Regions from separate parts of the Homo sapiens genome. Here region 1 is linked to region 2. The links come from fine-mapping of genetic effects on plasma protein levels. Region 2 holds a variant in brackets. A gene starts in the other region. All regions are shown on their forward strands.

Region 1 (8,785 bases), not on the chromosome of region 2:
TCCAAATTCTTTCCAGCTTCATGGCCTATGCACACACAGTTCATTCTGTTTGGACAGCTCCTCCTTTCATACTGCACATAGAAATGTGCAGCTCTTCAACTATGCCCTCCAAGCCCTTCAACTATGCCTAACAAATTCATATTTATTGTTTAGATTGTATTCCACAAAGAGGTGTCCCCTTATCCTTCTGATTACGTTATATATATTTTTTCTCCTCTTTGCAATGATCACAGTTGTAATGGAATAGCTACTGATGTAATGACTCATTTAACATCTGTCTCTCCTATTAAATTATAAGCTCCACAATGGCAAAAGCCCCTTTAAAGCACATGCCACAGTGCCTGCACATTTATTTAACATGAAAAGAAGTAGCATGAAACTTCTCAAATAGCATTGCTTCATTCACAATGAGGGACGTGCATACTTCCTGTCCCCACTGGCTCAAACCAGGATGCTGAGCCACAAAAACATAGATAAGCCTGGCACATGTTCTTAAAGAGGTACCATAAACTTAAATGCCCACAGAAATCAAAGCAAGATAACATAGATGAGTGAAGCAGCTGGGTGTAAGAACAAAAGCACAAGCACTATGATAAATGACAAAAGAACACCTGGCCTCAGTGTCCAAGTACAATAATGAATTGTAGTGACTATGGCAAATCATAGCACTAATGCTCCATCTAAGCAGAGGCTGACTGCTACTCATAACTCCAGCCAACTGTTGCCAACAGAAACAAGAAATGCCAGAAGCTGGAAGTCTAAGTTTTATGAGAAATTTCCCCATTCTAAAATTCTGTCAATTAATTCAAATATATTAACATTTTACCACCTATGTAGGCCAAATAAAACACTTCTGCAGGCCACAATGAGCCCATCGGTTTGCAGGTTGTTCTAAAGCATTTATTTTACTTGATGATTTGTGAGAAAAAAAAAATTACGTACAGACACAGAGTGTAAAATAAAACACACCTCCAAAAAAGCTTTTCTTTTTGAGACAGGGTCTCACTCTATCAACCAGGCTGGAGTGCAGCGGCACAATCACGGCTGACTGCAGCCTCAATCTTCCAGGCTCAAGTGATCCTTCTATCTCAGTCTCCTGAATAGCTGGGGCTACAGGCACGGACCACCATGCCCTGCTATTTTTTTTTTTATTATTTTATTTTATTTTGAGACAGAGTCTCGCTCTGTCACCCAGGCTAGAGTGCAGTGGCACAATTTCGGCTCACTGCAACCTCTGCTTCCCAGGTTCAAGTGATTCTCCTGATGCAGCCTCCTGAGTGGCTGGTATTACAGGTACCCGCTACCACACCTCGTTAATTTTTGTATTTTTAAGAGACCGGGTTTCACCACGTTGTCCAGACTGGTATCAAACTCCTGACCTCAGGTGATCCGCCCACCTCAGCCTCCCGAAGTGCTGGGATTACAGGTGTGAGCTACCACACCCAGTCCTTTTTTTTTTTCTTTTGTAGAGACAGGGTCTCACTAGGTTGCCCAGGCTGATCTCAAACTCCTGGGCTCAAGTGATCCTCTTGTCTGAGCCTCCTAAAGTGCTGGGATTACAGGTGTGAGCCACTGCGCCCAGCCAAAAACCATTTCTTTTTAAGAAAAAACAATAGTCTTTAACCATCTCAAGCTAACATTCTCCTCTCTAACCACCTCCCCTTTCTACCACCCCAAAACTCCTGAAGTTCTCTACATTCTCCTTGGACCTTAGAAATATTGGGGCGGAAGACTGAGAAGCACTGATTAGTTAGAATGAAAGAGGAGGCATTAGAGTCATTAGGACCAGGTTCAAAGCCAGCTCTGCCACTTACTAGCAATGTACTCTAAAGCAAGTTATCTAATTTCTTTGTCCATCAATTTTCCCGTCTATACAATGGAAGTAATGTAATGTCTTCATCGTACAGCTGCTTTAAGAATAGGATTAAATAACATTATACTATATGCCAAACGTCCAATACAGGACCTAACACAGAGCATGAACTCAAAAAATGGGTATTATAAAGATATGCAAAAGACATGGTAACAATTGAATCTTGTTTAGGGTAAGAATTAAACATTCTAGATCTAAAACTGGTGGGGTACTTCAGTTGATAGATGGAAAACATGCCTAATAGTTCTGATAATACTCCTAAATTTTTTTTTTTTTTTTGCTGAGACGGAGTCTCACTCTGTCACTCAGGCTAGATAAAGTACACTGGTACAATCTCAGCTCACTGCAACCTCCGCCTCCCAGGTTCAAGCAACTCTCCTGCCTCAGCCTCCTGAATAGCTGGGATTACAGGCACGCACCACCAGGCCCAGCTAATTTTTCTGTTTTTAGTAGAGATGGGGTTTCACCATGTTGGCCAGGCTGGTCTCAAACTCCTGACCTCAAGTGATCCATCCGCCTCAGCCTCTCAAAGCGCTGGGATTACAGGCATGAGCCACCATGCCTGGCCCCTAAATACTTTTTAATAATTTTTTTCTACTAGGAGGAATGCTTATTTTGTTTCACATGCACAAGACAGATCATGATTTGAATAATGTAGGTATAAAAATTATTACCTTCACAAAACAGTTTCCAGCTATCAGTACTATTACAATACTATCTAATACAACCCTCAAGTCCCATTTCCTAATCCACAAGAAAGAGATTAATCCTTTTATCCTTGGGATGAGGCAACAGGTACAGATAAAAGAACAAATCTGATAATACATTTAAATAAACCCCTTCAAACACTGTATACCTGCTTGTCCTGTTTGGCTGAGGTAACTGCTCAATGACCTGACTGATGGAACCACATGTGTCCAAGTTAGAAGAATCCACAGGGTCTGAAAAAAATAACTGGATATTAGCATGAAAGACATTTACCAACAAACCTTAATACAAAATCAGGAATACAGACAATACCAATCTAATCAGTGACACTAGCACATCAACTTTTGAGTGACTACTACGCAGATACCACAGTAGGCTTCCTTACATACATTCGACACAACCACATAAAGTTTAAATCCACCCAGCACCAACAAGAGCACCCAAAAAATGCAAAGGGGACAGATAGCTTTAAACACCTCACCTGCAACCTTGTTTTCTTTCAAATGTTCATTGAACCCACTATTACCGTCTCCTCGTTCTTCTCCAGCTGTTTGTTCAGGATTGGACACAACATCCTAGAAAATACACATACAAAATATCCCCATTATATATGAAATAGTTCAAAATGAAACCTACTATTTGTGAACAATTTTTCCAATCAACTTTATTGAGAAGGTAATGATCTTCTAAATACTTATGTTTGCTGGTTTTCGGTTTAAAAAAAAAAATCTGCTCAATCTTCTTCAAACAAGGTATCACTCACCAACACAGGATTTTCTTTGTGCGTCTGGAGATTAGGAAGGTGTCGAGATAGCATACTGAAGTGAGAACCAGAATCATCCTCTAGAACCTGGCTTTCAGGCTGAGAATCTTCAATTATCAGGCAAGGAGTATCTTGCTGAGAGAAATCTGAATCCAACTGACTTCCAGTAGGGTCCATCTGCTCCCCTGGAATGGAATAACAAAAGATCAGTTCCGTGTAACCTACTAGCCTTGCTCACGCAGTCTAAACCTAAATAATGGGGCGGAAGTACAAGAGCTGGGAAACGGGACCACTTCAGGACTCCTCCAATTAGAATATTATATTTATAATTGCTGCAAGCACTTTCCTATCATGCCTACCAAGTCACCATTCCTCGTTATTTACAATAAGCCTGACTATCCCTCCCTATTTTTCATCACCTTCTCGTAGACACCCTTTCCCCTCCTTCCTAACCTCTTCTCTCCCCGCCCCTTTTTCCATCCCCCCCGCCACGTCCTTCTGGCGCCTCTACCTCCCCCCAAAAGAATGTTTTCTAAAATCTGTTCGCCAGAGGCCCCACAGCCTTTCAGCTTTCCTCACGACCACCAAGCCTTCTTAGCTAACGTTTCCCCACCCCCTCCTTAGGGCCCTCCAACCCCTTCCCCGTCACCGCCGCCATGCTTGCCACCCCGCCCCCTCCGGTCAGCCATCCCTTCAGACCCGAAATCCAGGCCTTCAGAGCCCACTGCACTCCCATTTCTCTCCAAACAGTACCAGGCATCCCGGCGGGAGGTCCCTCGCGCTCGAGCTAGAGGTCTCTGCACGCTCCCCAAGTCCCTCCAGATCGATCCCTAGGTCGCCGCTGTCGCCACCGCCGCCACCGGCCGCGAACTCCCCCTTTCCCGTCACGTCACACAATATCGGATCGTCCATTCGCTGCCGCCGCCCGCCACTCAAGAAATCCCGTGGATGATAGGTAGCTGCGGCAGAGTGCCCTGCCCCACGTAAGAAAAAGGAACACGGCGGCGCGTTTCCATGGCAGCATGGACGTTGCAGGCCCTCCCCTTTAGTAGAGCCGGAGAATGACGGTATCCTTGAACCGAAGGGACCTTGAGAGGGCGTGAAATACCTTCCCCTGCTTCCAGGACGATTGCATTTACCACTACTCAGACATTTCAGTACCTCTACCTGCTTTTTCTCGTTCACGCCCCTTAATCCCCGTCCCTCACCCTCTTTCCTGGAAAAGGAGAGAGTTTCCCAGCTTTCTCATAACAGGGCAAAGAAGAAGCGGCTTGAGGATGGCTAGGTACTTCAGAGCTGGTGAACCCAACAGAAGAGACTCTTTCTTCTTTGACACAGGGTTAACCTGTGTCAATCAGGATCCCTTTTGTGGGCCTCTACCCTGAATCCAAGGGCCTGACATTACATCTCTGCCAGGGCGTTTTTAGTATTTGTTTGTTTTTACATTGTATAAGGGCTCCAGTAAGCCATATTTCTTCCCATTGCCCTTTTCCGCCTAGGACGTATTTCAAGCTTCACACTTGTTTATCGTTGCCTTATCTTTTATGGGATTGCCTGCAGAGACTACAGCCCCAGACATATTTTGCACCTCCCATTGAGAGAATTGAGCACTGTCATTCTCAAACTCCATGGTAAAGAGAACAGCTGCCACCCCTTCTAACTAGATGACCTCAAAGATACTTCCAAACCCAGAGATTCTATTATCCTAATTATGGTGCCAGGGTCTTAAAGAGGGTGTGGCAGCTGTGACGAGTCTTAATGAACTAAGCCCCATGTGGCATATGTGTTTGTTTTGTTGTTGTTGTTGTTGAGGGGTGGGGGTATATTATTTAAGTGGCAGTTGGATCCAGGATAGAATTCTAGCCAGAGCAGCTGTCAATAGGGAAAGCACCTAGCACAGTGCCAAACATATACATAGTAGGCATTCAATATGAGGCAGTTTTCTCTTTCTACCCCAGGCTCAGATTTATTTCGGCACAGCCCAACCATGATTCTCCATTTCTGTAAATGCCCAATTCAGCACGTGATATAGGCAAAGCTGAAGTGGAGCTTCCTACCAGTCTTCTCACTGCTGCTATAAATTACAGTGATCCTATTTTCCAAACCAAATTCAAAGCATGTTGTCTGAATACACGTTACTTATGGGAACAAAAGGACTGACTCCTTGAAACTGTCCTGAAAAATCTAGAATCTATTACTGCTATAACTGGAATATAATTATGGTCGCCAGTATGTTTTATTAGTGGAGCTAAAATGAAATGGACCACACAGAGATGCATCTCACTTCTTAATCTTAAAATCATTTATAATTGACTCTTTTCATACTCCACTCCTAAAGCTGCAGAACACCAGTGACTAAACAAATCTAATACTTAAAGACCAGGTTAGAGCAATACTAACTACACTAGCTGGACAAAGTGAGTTCATCTGCTCTATTTGAGAGGGCACAACCAACCAGGTCCTGTTATGAGTAAATCATGACCTTGAGTCCCATAAAAATCCCCCAAAAGTTACCATTTTTTTGCTTTTCTTCTCCAGCCTGCTTCTGCTTCCTCCCCAAGTGAGGCACAAATAAACAGATCTGTTTGATTACTTGACAAGTGTGTTTGTCGAAACATAAAATGGCTGGGCGCAGTGGCTTACACCTGTAATCCCAGCACTTTGGGAGGCAGAGGCAGGTGGATTACTTGAGCCCAGGAATTTGAGACCAGCCTGGGCAACATGGCAAAAGCCCATCTCTAAAAAATATACGAAAAAAATTAGCTGGGTGTGGTGGCATGTGCCTGTAGTCCCAGCTACTCAGGAGGCTGAGGTGAGAGCATCTCCTGAACTAGGAGGCACAGGTTGCAATGAGCCAAGATTGCAACACTGTGCTCCAGCCTGGGCAAGAGAGTGAGACCCTGTCTGAAACAACAACAATAAAAACCTAAAAACCGCCAGGCGCAGTGGCTCACACCTGTAATCCCAGCACTTTGGGAGGACGAGGCGGGCGGATCATGAGGTCAGGAGATCGAGACCATCCTGGCTAAGATAGTGAAACCCCGCCTCTACTAAAAATACAAAAAATCAGCTGGGCATGGTGGTGGGCGCCTGTAGTCCCAGCTACTCAGGAGGCTGAGGCAGGAGAATTGCTTGAACCCTGGAGGCGTAGGTTACAGTGAGCCGAGATCGTGCCACTGCACTCCAGCGTGGGCAGCAGAGTGAGACTCCGTCACACACACACACACACACACACACACACACACACACAAAAGCCAGGTGCGGTAGCTCACGCCTGTAATCCCAGCACTCTGGGAGGCCAAGTCGGGCAGATCACGAGGTCAGGAGATCGAGACCATCCTGGCTAACACGGTGAAACACGGTCTCTACTAAAAATACAAAAAATTAGCCGGGTGCGCGGGCAGGCGCCTGTAGTCCCAGCTACTTGGGAGGCTGAGGCAGGAGAATGGCGTGAACCCGGGAGGCGGAGCTTGCAGTCAGCAGAGATCGCGCCACTGCACTCCAGCCTGGGTGACAGAGTGAGACCCCGTCTCAAAAAAAAAAAAAAAGCCTAAAAACCTCAGCCTGACTAAAAATAGATAAATAAATGAGTGAGCCATTTGCATTACTAAACAAGAATCTTAAAAAAAACTGTTAAGAAAAACTATTAATTCCTTGTTAGGCAGTGTGGCAATTAAATTAATCATTAAATTATCCAGAAAAATAAACTACAGGCAGAATGGTTGCAGCTAGATGAGCCAAAGGCCTTTATTGACTCCTAGACTGCAAAGGACCAACAGCACATCTACCTGTCTACAGGTAACATCTTTTCCTAAACCACCTTAGACAGAGAAATCTAACTTACCTCTAAAGCCCTCCCAGAGAAGGCTCATCAGATCTTAGGTTAACTTGCTTTAAAGTTTAACAAACCTCATTGTCAGAAATTTTTCTTCTAATATTAATCTTCTAATCTTCTAACCTAAATCCTTTATTATAGAATTTAAAGCCATTTCCTCTCATATTGTCTTTAACTGCTATCTTTAAAACCTAGATAGATGTCATTAAGTTGGGATCATCTCATTTGGTCCTATAATTATATAATAAATTTCAAACCATCAAACAACAAATCTAAATACTATATGACTTAGTTTGTGAGTATTTTTCTGAAGCCTCCTCAAAGACTTCTTAAGCAAAAGAACCCTAGCCCAGCTTATTCTTCCCTCACAGGTATTCCACCAACCTTTAAAGTTGCTTCACGATCTTATGAAAACTCATAGTTTTGGAGCTCAGTGGCAGAGTACTCTACTGAGGAGAATTGACAAGTGCCAAATTTAATGATAGGAAAACAATCATATATTCCTTTTTTTTTTTTTTTTTTGAGATGGAGTTTCACTCTTTTTGCCCAGGCTGGAGTGCAATGGTGTGATCTCCGCTTACGGCAACCCCTGCCTCCTGGGTTCAACTGATTCTCCTGCCTCAGCCTCCTGAGTAGCTAGGATTACAGGCATGTGCAACACACCTGGCTAATTTTGTATTTTTAGTAGAGACAGAGTTTCTCCATGTTGGTCAAGCAGGTCTCGAACTCCGGCCTCAGGTGATCCGCCCACCTCAGCCTCCCAAAGTGCTGGGATTACAGGCATGAGCCATAGTGCCCAGCCTCTCCCCTCTTTGTATAGAAGTAATCAAATCTTCACATCCAAGTATCATCTCCTGTCCACTCTACTTCTCTACGTTTGCAGTCTGGCTTCAACCTCCATAAATCTAATGCCTAGCACAATGCCAGACACAAAGTAGTTACTCTAAACATGTTAATGACTGATTCTAAAATTTTCTTGTCAAATTACCTCATTATCAGCCAGGTGCGGTAGCTCAAGTAATCCCAGTACTTTGGGAGGCCAAGGCAGGCTGATTGCTTGAGCTCAGGAGTTCAAGACTAGCCTGGCCAGCATGGTGAAACCCCGTCTCTATTAAAAATACAATGGTGGTGTGCACCTGTATTCCCAGCTACTCAGGAGGCTGAGGTGGAAGAATCACTTGAACCTGGGAGGCAGAGGTTGCAGTGAGCCGAGATCGCACCACTGCACCCCAGCCTGGGCTACAGAGTGAGACTCTGCCTCAAAAAACAACAACAAATTACCTCATTATCTTTGACGTCTGTAGTGTCTGATGCTGTTGCCATTCCCTCCTCAAAATTCTCATCCTGTGACTCGATAAATCCTGGCTCTTCTCTACCATCTCAGCTTTCTTTCCAATTCCTAACTTCCTGGAAGCCAGTACTATAGAATAAAAATCGAGAGTGATATGAACATGCTCAACACAGATGAACCTTGAAAACATTATGCTAAGTGAAATAAGCCAGACACAAAAGAACAAATATTGTGTGATTCCACTTATACGAGGTACCTAGAGTAGGCAAATTCAGAAAGAGAGAAAGTAGAATGGTGGCTGCCAGGAGCTAGGAG
Region 2 (8,839 bases):
TTCAAAAGTGGTTCCTTCTAGAAGCACAATTATAGTAACTGCTCTAAATTCTGTCTGATTCCCATATCTGGGTCATCGCAGGATTGACATCTGTTGATTTTGTTTTCCCTTACGAGTGGTTAGATGTTTTTGGTGCTATATGTCAAGTTATTTTGGATTTTATTGACAATTTGAGTACTATATGGGGAGACTCTATGTCCTAATAAAGTCCTTTGGGGAAGGTTATTTTTTGGTTGTTGTTATTTTGCTTTTGTAGATACTCAATTTTGTTAGGTTCAGACTGCAAGTTTTAGCTCACCTTTCTGGATGGTGATTCCAATGTTAGTTACATTTTCAAGGCCTTTGCTGTGCTGCTCTGGGTCTGTCTGTGCATGTGCTACTCAGAGATAACTCCAGTGTGTCTTTAGCTACAGAATTAGAAGATTTCCTTCTCTAGCTCTTTCCCCTCAAGTATTTCTTTCCCCCAAATTCTCTGACTTCCAAGGGCTTGTTTTCCTAGTTATGTGGTCACTAGAAAGATAAGATTTAACTTGAAGCTATAGTGACCATAATACCCATAATTCTCCATGATCGGGGCTGCCTTTAGAGCAAAATGGCAGAGAAAAGAGAGAGGAAGATAAAACATAAAAGTGATTCATCTACCCTTTTTGTACTACAGGATTTCCTTTTGGTTCCTTTCTAGTTCCTCTGGCCCAAAATTTGGGTTTTCCCTCAAGGTGTTAGGTACTGGAGACATTGTTGCCACCACATTGTAGGTTCATGGGTGGGCTGCCCTTGGTGTAGAACTGGGAAAAAATAGAAAAACTGATGGGAATTTTCTACTCTTCCCATTTTTCCCAGTCCTCTTTTTATGGGGACCTATTTTCTGGGCCCTCTGATCAGAAATACTCTTAGAGCTTTTGCTGCTCGCTTCCATGATGGAACCACTCTTGAGTCAAAGTGGGAAAACAAAAGAACAAAAATACCAAGGAAATTCACCTGTGAATGGATTTTTCTTCAAGCTTAGCTTCTCCTTCCTAATTTGCTTGCATTCTTAATTTTTTTAGAGCTCTCAAGTAGTTGCAGTTTATGTTTTGTCCACTATTTTCAGTTGTAATCCATGAGAGACAGTGGCTGTAGTGGACTTGTTCCCTCTTGGCTAGCAATAGGAGTTCTCTGTATCTATGCACGTTTGTATTGATTCTTCATAGCTCACAGTGTCTGTCACCTAGGTGATGAGCAAAACGTATGTATTGAGTGAAAGGATGAATGAATAGACAAAGGAATGAAAAAATAAGAATATGAAAAAAATAAAGGAAGGAAGAAAGAAGATGAATAGATGGATGGGCAAGGAACATGTGATTCCTACAGGTGTGTCAGTGTTTAGGCATGATTCTATTTTATGGTCGCTAGATGGCAGTAGAAGACAACGCCCACTCAGCGATTTTTTTAAAAAAATGTATTCAACATTTATTGACAGTCTACTATAGGCAAGGCACTTTATTAGGAACTGAGAGGGGTGAAAGTGGGGAGGAGGATAGGGTCCAAAGAAAAATAAGAGTCAGCTTCTGGCCTTTAACAATTCACAAGTTGACAAGTACAGAAAGATTAACCAAATTATGGACATCCTTAAATGGGGTGAGGGGCCATAGCCTCTACATTCATGTGGTCATGGCCCTGTCTGAAGGCTGAGAATTAGGTGGGTGGGCAGATTTTAGGGGCAGTACACTGTTCTTTGCTGGTGGGGTGGCCAGCCACCGCTGGATCAAAAGCCAAAGACTCAATTGCTTCTAGGTTCCCAGACGGAAGCTGAGTGACTACTGCAGCCTGCCTGCAGTAGTCACTTGATCCTCTGAAGGGCCTGGATGGACTCAGCTTGTTCTCACGTGGGGATGTGGGCCTGGCATTACCAGATCTTCCATTTCTCATGACAAGTCAAAAATACAAACTGATATGAAATTTCCTGATTTGTAAATGCTGGCACTAATTCACAGTTTACAAAGCACTGAGTGAGTCAATCAAAACACATCTATGGGAATGGAGTTGGCTCTTGAACCATCATCACTTCGTGATCTCTATTCCAGAGAGTCATCTGTGAGTTCCTTTCATGGTCTCTGCCATGGATGCCACTCAGACCAAAGTGTCCTTTGAAGGAGTTCCTCCTTTTTTCCCCCTCTCCTTGTTCCCCATTCCTTATGTTCAGAGATTCCCTAAGAGAGCAACACTTACCAGCTTTTCTCCATGCCAGTGAGCCCTACCTGATCTCTCCTCTAGGAAGGAGCCACCAGGCTGGCCAGTCAGGGCAGGTGGCTGGGTTGCAAGCACTCCATTTCTGGTGTCCTTCTTACATCTCAAATACATCAGTTTGAGCTTTTTCATGACCCTAAAGGTTCATTCGTGTGCAGAAAAGATTCAGAAATTATTTTGATTTTAAAAATTAATTTTCTTTTTAAATCTATTTAAAAGTTCCTTCAAACATTTAGGTTACATTTAAAATATTATTATTCTATTTACATGTCTACATACATACTTTATTAATTGCTTCATATTTTTTAATAGTTAGATCTGAAGGAGAATTTAGATTTTCAGTTTCTCTTGCTGATTCCTTATTACAACTATCCAGGACAAAGGAAAAGGATGATTAGTATTCCATGTTCCCTGAGGCCATGGAAGCTGGGAATCTGGTCCAAGGGCACTAGGGTGCCTGAGAAATGCAGTACCAAGAGGTACAGAATGTCGACTCAGGAAGGAGGTAGGGAGTTTCTTTCCCTCTTTCTCTCCTCCAGTGATCAGTACTCCAGGTGGCATAGCAAGAGTCAGAAAAGTACAGCAGTTGCAAGGGCGTTTCTCTCTGAGGTTCAGCCTCAACTCTTCCTCTAACCAGGGACGTCACTTTGGACACATTGCTTAGCCTCTCCATGCCTTCATTTTCTTTCTGTGAAGTGGGAGTGTTAACATATTCTGGAAGGTGTTGGGAAAGGGAAGATGTTGATCAAAGGGTATAAAGTTTAAGTTAGATTAGAGAAATATATTTTAGTGTTCTATTACACTGCATGGTGACCGTGGCTAATAATATGTTATTATATATTTCAAAATTACTAAAAGAATAGATTTTTAATGTTCTCATTACAAAAAATGATAAGTTGGTGAAGCGATCGATATTTTAATTAGCTTGACTGAGTCTTTCTACAATGTATACATAGATGAAAACATCATATTGTACCCCATAGATTTATACAATTATATATATTATCTCACAGAGCTATTCTGAAGATTAAGTAAAATGTCTGGCCTAATATAAACAGGAGGTAAACAGATAGGTATTTATTTCTTGTTTCTTTGATATAAATGTTGACATCGGATTTATTTGTTAGGACGAACTATAGACAAGATGGTGAGAACCAGCAAGATGTCCTCAGGAATTCCTGCTTCACTTATCCCACAGAGCTGACTGTGGCCCCTTCAGAAGTCCAGATACTTTTTATTCTCATTTCCTTTCCAGTCTCAATGTGAACTCTTAGCAAAAAACTGGATCCTTCTCAATCAGCTATTTCCTTCAGAGAGGCGGAAGAAGGAGAGATGGGTGAGGGGTCATCCCAGAAATCCTAGTGGACAGGCCTCTTCTGGGAGCATCAGATGCCTACAAGGTGTTTATGGACTGACATCTGTGAGTGTGTCTGTTTTCTTAGTGTTGGTGTCAGGGTGTGTAGAAGTTGAAAGTGAATGGCAACTCTAGTGTCTTGTTGTGTTACGAACTTTCACCAGGTGGCAGAAGAGTACTGTGAAGAGAAGTCACAAGGATTCACAATCACTCTCCAAAGTAGTGGGAAGTCAAGCAAGAAAGGGTGGCTTGTTCAGAACAGTTGCGATCATTCTGAAAGCAACTCATAAGGGTTGGCAAGTTAAGCTCCAATATGAATTCATTTAGAAACCAGAAAAACAAGAAGAGACTAGCTTGCCAGATGAGAGGAGATTCTGTATGAAAGGAGAGACTTCTAGAAGTGTGGTTGGCAAACCATCCCAAAAGCCTGCACAGTAGGGTAACATGAATGGACCTCATTTAGTTGATTACCTGGAAGTTCAACTGTGGGTATGAAATGTAGGATCAGCTAATATGGTGGCAGAGGAGCTGGTTGCCTATATGGTTTAATTGGAGAATTCCTGAATCTATTTTCTTCCACCCAGTTTCTCTATTATGGTTTATCTGGGGTCAGCCTTTTCTCTAAAAGGTCACTATTATAATGCAAGTACGGAACACCCCCCCTCCCCAGCCCCTTAACTCTTGTTAACTGATATTAATTCTTCTGATTAGTTTATGTCACTTGGAAGAGTGGATTGTCCCAAGGAAAGAATGGAGAACAGGCTAGACCTTGGTGTTGCTAAAGCTAGTGCTGCACTCATGGCTAGGCCAGTGTTCTCCTGTTGAGTAGAAACAATTTCATAGAATGCCAACATCAGAAAAGGCACTCTGTGATCACAATAGAGAAAGAAATAAAATCCACTCTATAATCCTGTCTGAGCACAGATGAAACCAAGAGCGTTGTCTAAAAGTGACCACAAAAATGACCAGTGTGCCCCTATCCTTATTGATATAAGAGATTGCTGCTGCTTTACCAAGGAATGCTTTAGTCAGTCTCGTTTTATTCTTCACACCTTCTAGGTAAGAATTATTAAGATACCCAGTCATGGGATCCTAACAATATCTAACTCAGAGAAAAGATCCACTTCTTTAAACCCTGTCCAAAATCACTTAACACGAGGTTTGGCAAGAGAGCACCTGACGTTCAGAGAGAGATGAAAACTAGGGAAAGAATGTACCAAAGGAAAGGAAAGAGATGATGAAGCCAAAACCTCAGGGCTTTACAGTGGGGCCTTGAGTGGGCTCTTGTTTCAATGTATTCAGTAACCAGAAGCCAGGGACCCTGCTTGCACTGCCTGCCACTGACATTTCTCCTCTGATCTAAGTCTCTGCTTAACAAAGAAGCCTGTGGCTACTCTTAAAGTCTCCCCATCTGGAATGGGGGTGAGTTTGTTCAGCTCACTCCTTCTTCTCCTTCCTGAGCAGCTGACTTATTCTGATGTGGTTTTGCGGTTATACAGTAAGCAGCACTGCTTATGTGGACATGGTGTACTTTCAGTTTCTGAAAGTGAGTCATGTTGACTTTCCTCTGAGGAGTAAG[A/G]GTGACCCTTGCTTAAAAGGACAACATGACTAGAAGGAAGAAACACCAGAGGCCACCAGGACCAGAATGTTTACCAATGTAGGCAGTCACTAGTTTTTAGGAGTAGTTTGTGTCATCTTTTTAAACAAGGTAAACTAGGAAGAAACATTTGGTTTTGAATCTTTGAGTGTTTGCCAATGTTTGAAGTACTTATCTATTTTTACTCATCATTTAAAGTGATGTTTGTGGCTAAGAGCTCAAGATCTACAAACATACTTAAATAAGTTTACATTTGGTCAGCTGGAACCTGATGGGGACATTTCCAAGAGGATCACTTGCTAGTATTACATCTTTAATTTTCATGTATGTTAATGGCTTGTGATATTGGACTATTCATCCAGGCCCTAAGAAATCTCAGCAGGTCTATTGAGAATCAAAATTAAGGCTGTACATAGCCACTATACAGAATAAGGAGTTTCTTGTAATCTAACTCTCCTTCGTGGTCTTATTTGGTTAATTTTTTCATGATAACATGTAGAGCCAATATGGGCTCTTGTCACCACTTCTGCATCCTTGCAAGCATTGTTAATTGTCTTATGTTTTTCTTGCTTAGCCAGGATGTAGCCTCAAGATACTTCCCGTCACCATGCTCCTGACAGCCACTGCTGTCAGATCACAGTAGATAAGTGAGATCAAGCCCACTTGCATGTCTGCCCTAGAATCTCCATTTAACTTTGCTCTTGGGTATCCAAATCATAGGAGTGCCGCTGTCCTCCAATCAAGGAGACTGTCTTTCTTTCCTCAATAATTAAATCCCTCTGGGTCCAAGAAAGCGCGAATAGAATTATTGTCAAATTCTATATCACTGAGCCATCATCACTACCTATTGCCTTGGTAAGTCATTTGGGCAATTGGAGAGAATAAGAAAAGCCCAGTAGTGAAGCAGCATGTATTAAATAATTAGTGAGATATTCAAGACAGTTTATATTTCACAAGTATATAAAAATTGCTATTACTTCACGGGACTGAATTTCCTTTTCTATTTTCTCTTTCTTTCTTTCTTTCTTTCTTTCTTTCTTTCTTTCTTTCTTTCTTTCTTTCTTTCCTTCCTTCCTTCCTTCCTTCCTTCCTTCTTTTTTTTGAGATGGCGTCTTGCTCTGTTGCCCAGGCTAGAGTGATCACAGCTCACTGCAACCTCTGCCTCCCAGGCTCAAGCGATCTTCACACCTCAGCCTCCTGAGTAGTTGGAACTACAAGTATGCACCACCAAGCCCGGCTAATTTTTGTATTTTTTGTAGAGACGGAGTTTCATCATGTTGCCCAGGCTGGTCTGTGAACTCCTGGACTCAAGCCATCTGCCTGCCTTGGCCTCCCAAAGGGCTGGGATTACAGGGGGCTGAATTTTCAAGGCAAGGCAAGTCCCCCTTTTAACTTTTGTTAGGTACTAGGCCTGTCATTTGGTAGTTGCTATAAAGTAGGTGGCAGCATCTATTAGGATGGAATAGATTCAGTAGGGAGACTTACTAAACTGCTAATATTTATGAAATTTAGTATGTGATAGCTATTTGTACTTCTTAATAAAATATATTTATTAAAATCATAACATACAAGTACTGATTAAATATTGTTCTAGCTGAGAGTCTTGGTTGCAATTAATAGGTATAAGCTCTAGATTATATAAGCAGGAAAAGGACTTATTGAAAGGTTCTAGACACAGAACCTCATCTCCTCCGGTGCTGAAGCCCGCGGCGGGGCAGGATGGGCAGGAGAGCAGAGCCGCGGAGTCTGCCGCGCGGGTGAAGAGCGGCGCGTAATTCCTGTGGCGGAATTGTTCTGCGCCTGCAGCCCCTGTGTTAGCAGGATCTGAACCCGGGCGGCTGCATGCTTACAGGCGCAGAGGTCAGAGAGCCCTTGGCTTAAAGTAAGCCATCCCCTCACCTTCTTCGAGGCCTCCAGGGCTGGGCCCAAGCACCCGTCGACGGCACCCTGGGCCCAGAGCACTCGCGGGCCTCATCTCCAATGATTCAGAACTCACATTCGTCACTGCTGCAACCCCAAGATGTCAGAGACACAGTGGAAACGCTTATGGTATGAAGAAAACATGAGGCACCACCAGTTACATCTGGTGATCAAGGCTTTCCTGTGTGGCTCCATCAGTGGAACCTGCTCTACCCTCCTTTTCCAACCTCTGGATCTCCTTAAAACACGCCTGCAAACCCTCCAGCCCTCAGATCATGGGTCTAGACGTGTTGGGATGTTGGCTGTACTCTTGAAGGTGGTTCACACGGAGAGTCTTTTAGGCCTTTGGAAAGGGATGTCCCCTTCCGTTGTGAGATGTGTCCCTGGCGTTGGAATCTACTTTGGCACTCTCTAGTCTTTGAAGCGGTATTTCTTGCGAGGCCATCCCCCAACCGCCCTGGAGTCAATCATGCTGGGGGTGGGCTCTCTCTCTGTTGCAGGGGTCTGTATGTTACCCATCACTGTAATCAAGATGTGCTATGAGAGTGGGAAATATGGCTATGAGAGTATCTACGCTGCCGTGAGGAGCATCTATCGCAGTGAGGGGCACCGGGGCCTCTTCAGTGGCCTGACAGCAACTCTCCTTCGAGATATGCCCTTTTCAGGAAACTACCTGATGTTTTACAACCAGACCAAAAACATAGTGCCCCATGACCAGGTGGATGCAACCTTTATTCCTATTACAAATTTCAGCTGTGGGATATTTGCTGGTATTCTCGCCTCACTGGTAACTCAACCTGCGGATGTTATCAAAACTCATATGCAGCTTTACCCACTGAAGTTTCAATGGATTGGCCAAGCAGTGACACTTACTTTCAAAGACTATGGACTACGTGGCTTCTTCCAAGGTGGCATCCCCCGAGCCCTCTGCAGAACTCTAATGGCAGCAATGGCGTAGATGGTGTATGAAGAGATGATGGCCAAGATGGGCCTGAAGTCCTGACCAAGAGAGGACTGGGAAAGGGTGAAATCTATTGCCCTGCTTGGTTTCTGCCAAGGGCTGCTGCTGCTTACTATTCTGCAGTAAGATGAAGTCCTACCTGGAAAACCAGGCAGAAATTGTGTTGCCTTTGCCTTCGGTAATCCCTTTAAGGAGAAAAATATATGGACCTGATTTGAGCCTTCACAATCTCCAAAAGAGGAGTCACCAATACATAGAACACACTGGGGTGTTAGGAGAGAGTTTTGCATACCCTGAGAGGCTACTTGGAAAGGCATTTTCCCAGGAGAGCTCTGTCAGGTGGCTGCGCTTCTGGCCCACACCTACACCACAGGGTCTCCTTGGGTACGTTCTTGGGCAAGGAATCACAAAGCCAGAGAAGCTGTAAGCTGCCTGCCGGGCCTGAGGAGCTCCAGCCAGGGAGGACTGGATGTGAGGAGAGGAGTCACTGTTACCAGGTCACAGACTGACTGAGGTGATGGTAGGATGAGGAGGAATAGATGCCATTCTTTAATTGGTTCTCAGTCAACTTCTCAGAGGCTCTGGGGAACGGGACAGTGGCTTTCTAGCCTCTGAATGTCCAAATAAAATTTTTTGGTCTTGGCCCCTGTATTGTTTCACCTCTAAATTCTGGCATTTTTTTTTTCCCTGCAATTAAAGTGCTTTACTTTAAAAAAAAAAAGTTTCTAGAGTAGCTCAGAGAAGCAACTAGAAATCTAGAAGACAAGACTTCAATCAAAAG

Alleles and levels. Positions count from the first base shown, and alleles are read on the strand shown. Strength reflects both the effect of a copy and how common the allele is.
With allele G in place of A in region 2, the plasma level of the protein whose gene starts at base 4,217 in region 1 is lower (weak association).

What was found. PIP is the posterior inclusion probability: the model's chance that the variant is causal. The UK Biobank Pharma Proteomics Project read protein levels with antibody pairs (Olink). The fine-mapping took linkage between variants from a reference panel, not from the people measured, so its PIPs are less certain.
Region 1: TP53BP1 starts here. The variant in region 2 is fine-mapped to the plasma level of the TP53BP1 protein (UK Biobank, PIP above 0.99).

Annotation. Positions count from the first base shown.
Region 1 is chr15:43,488,940-43,497,724 of GRCh38, forward strand. TP53BP1 (tumor protein p53 binding protein 1) reads right to left here and starts at 4,217. Exons shown (of 28, transcript NM_001141980.3): 1 at 4,098-4,217; 2 at 3,345-3,529; 3 at 3,063-3,156; 4 at 2,730-2,814. The coding sequence starts at 4,104. RefSeq lists enhancers at 3,243-3,951, 3,952-4,658, 6,155-6,655.
Region 2 is chr1:172,741,403-172,750,241 of GRCh38, forward strand. It overlaps the pseudogene SLC25A38P1. Among named protein-coding and RNA genes, the nearest start is that of FASLG, 87 kb to the left of the region's middle. The variant A/G (reference allele first, on the strand shown) is at 5,160.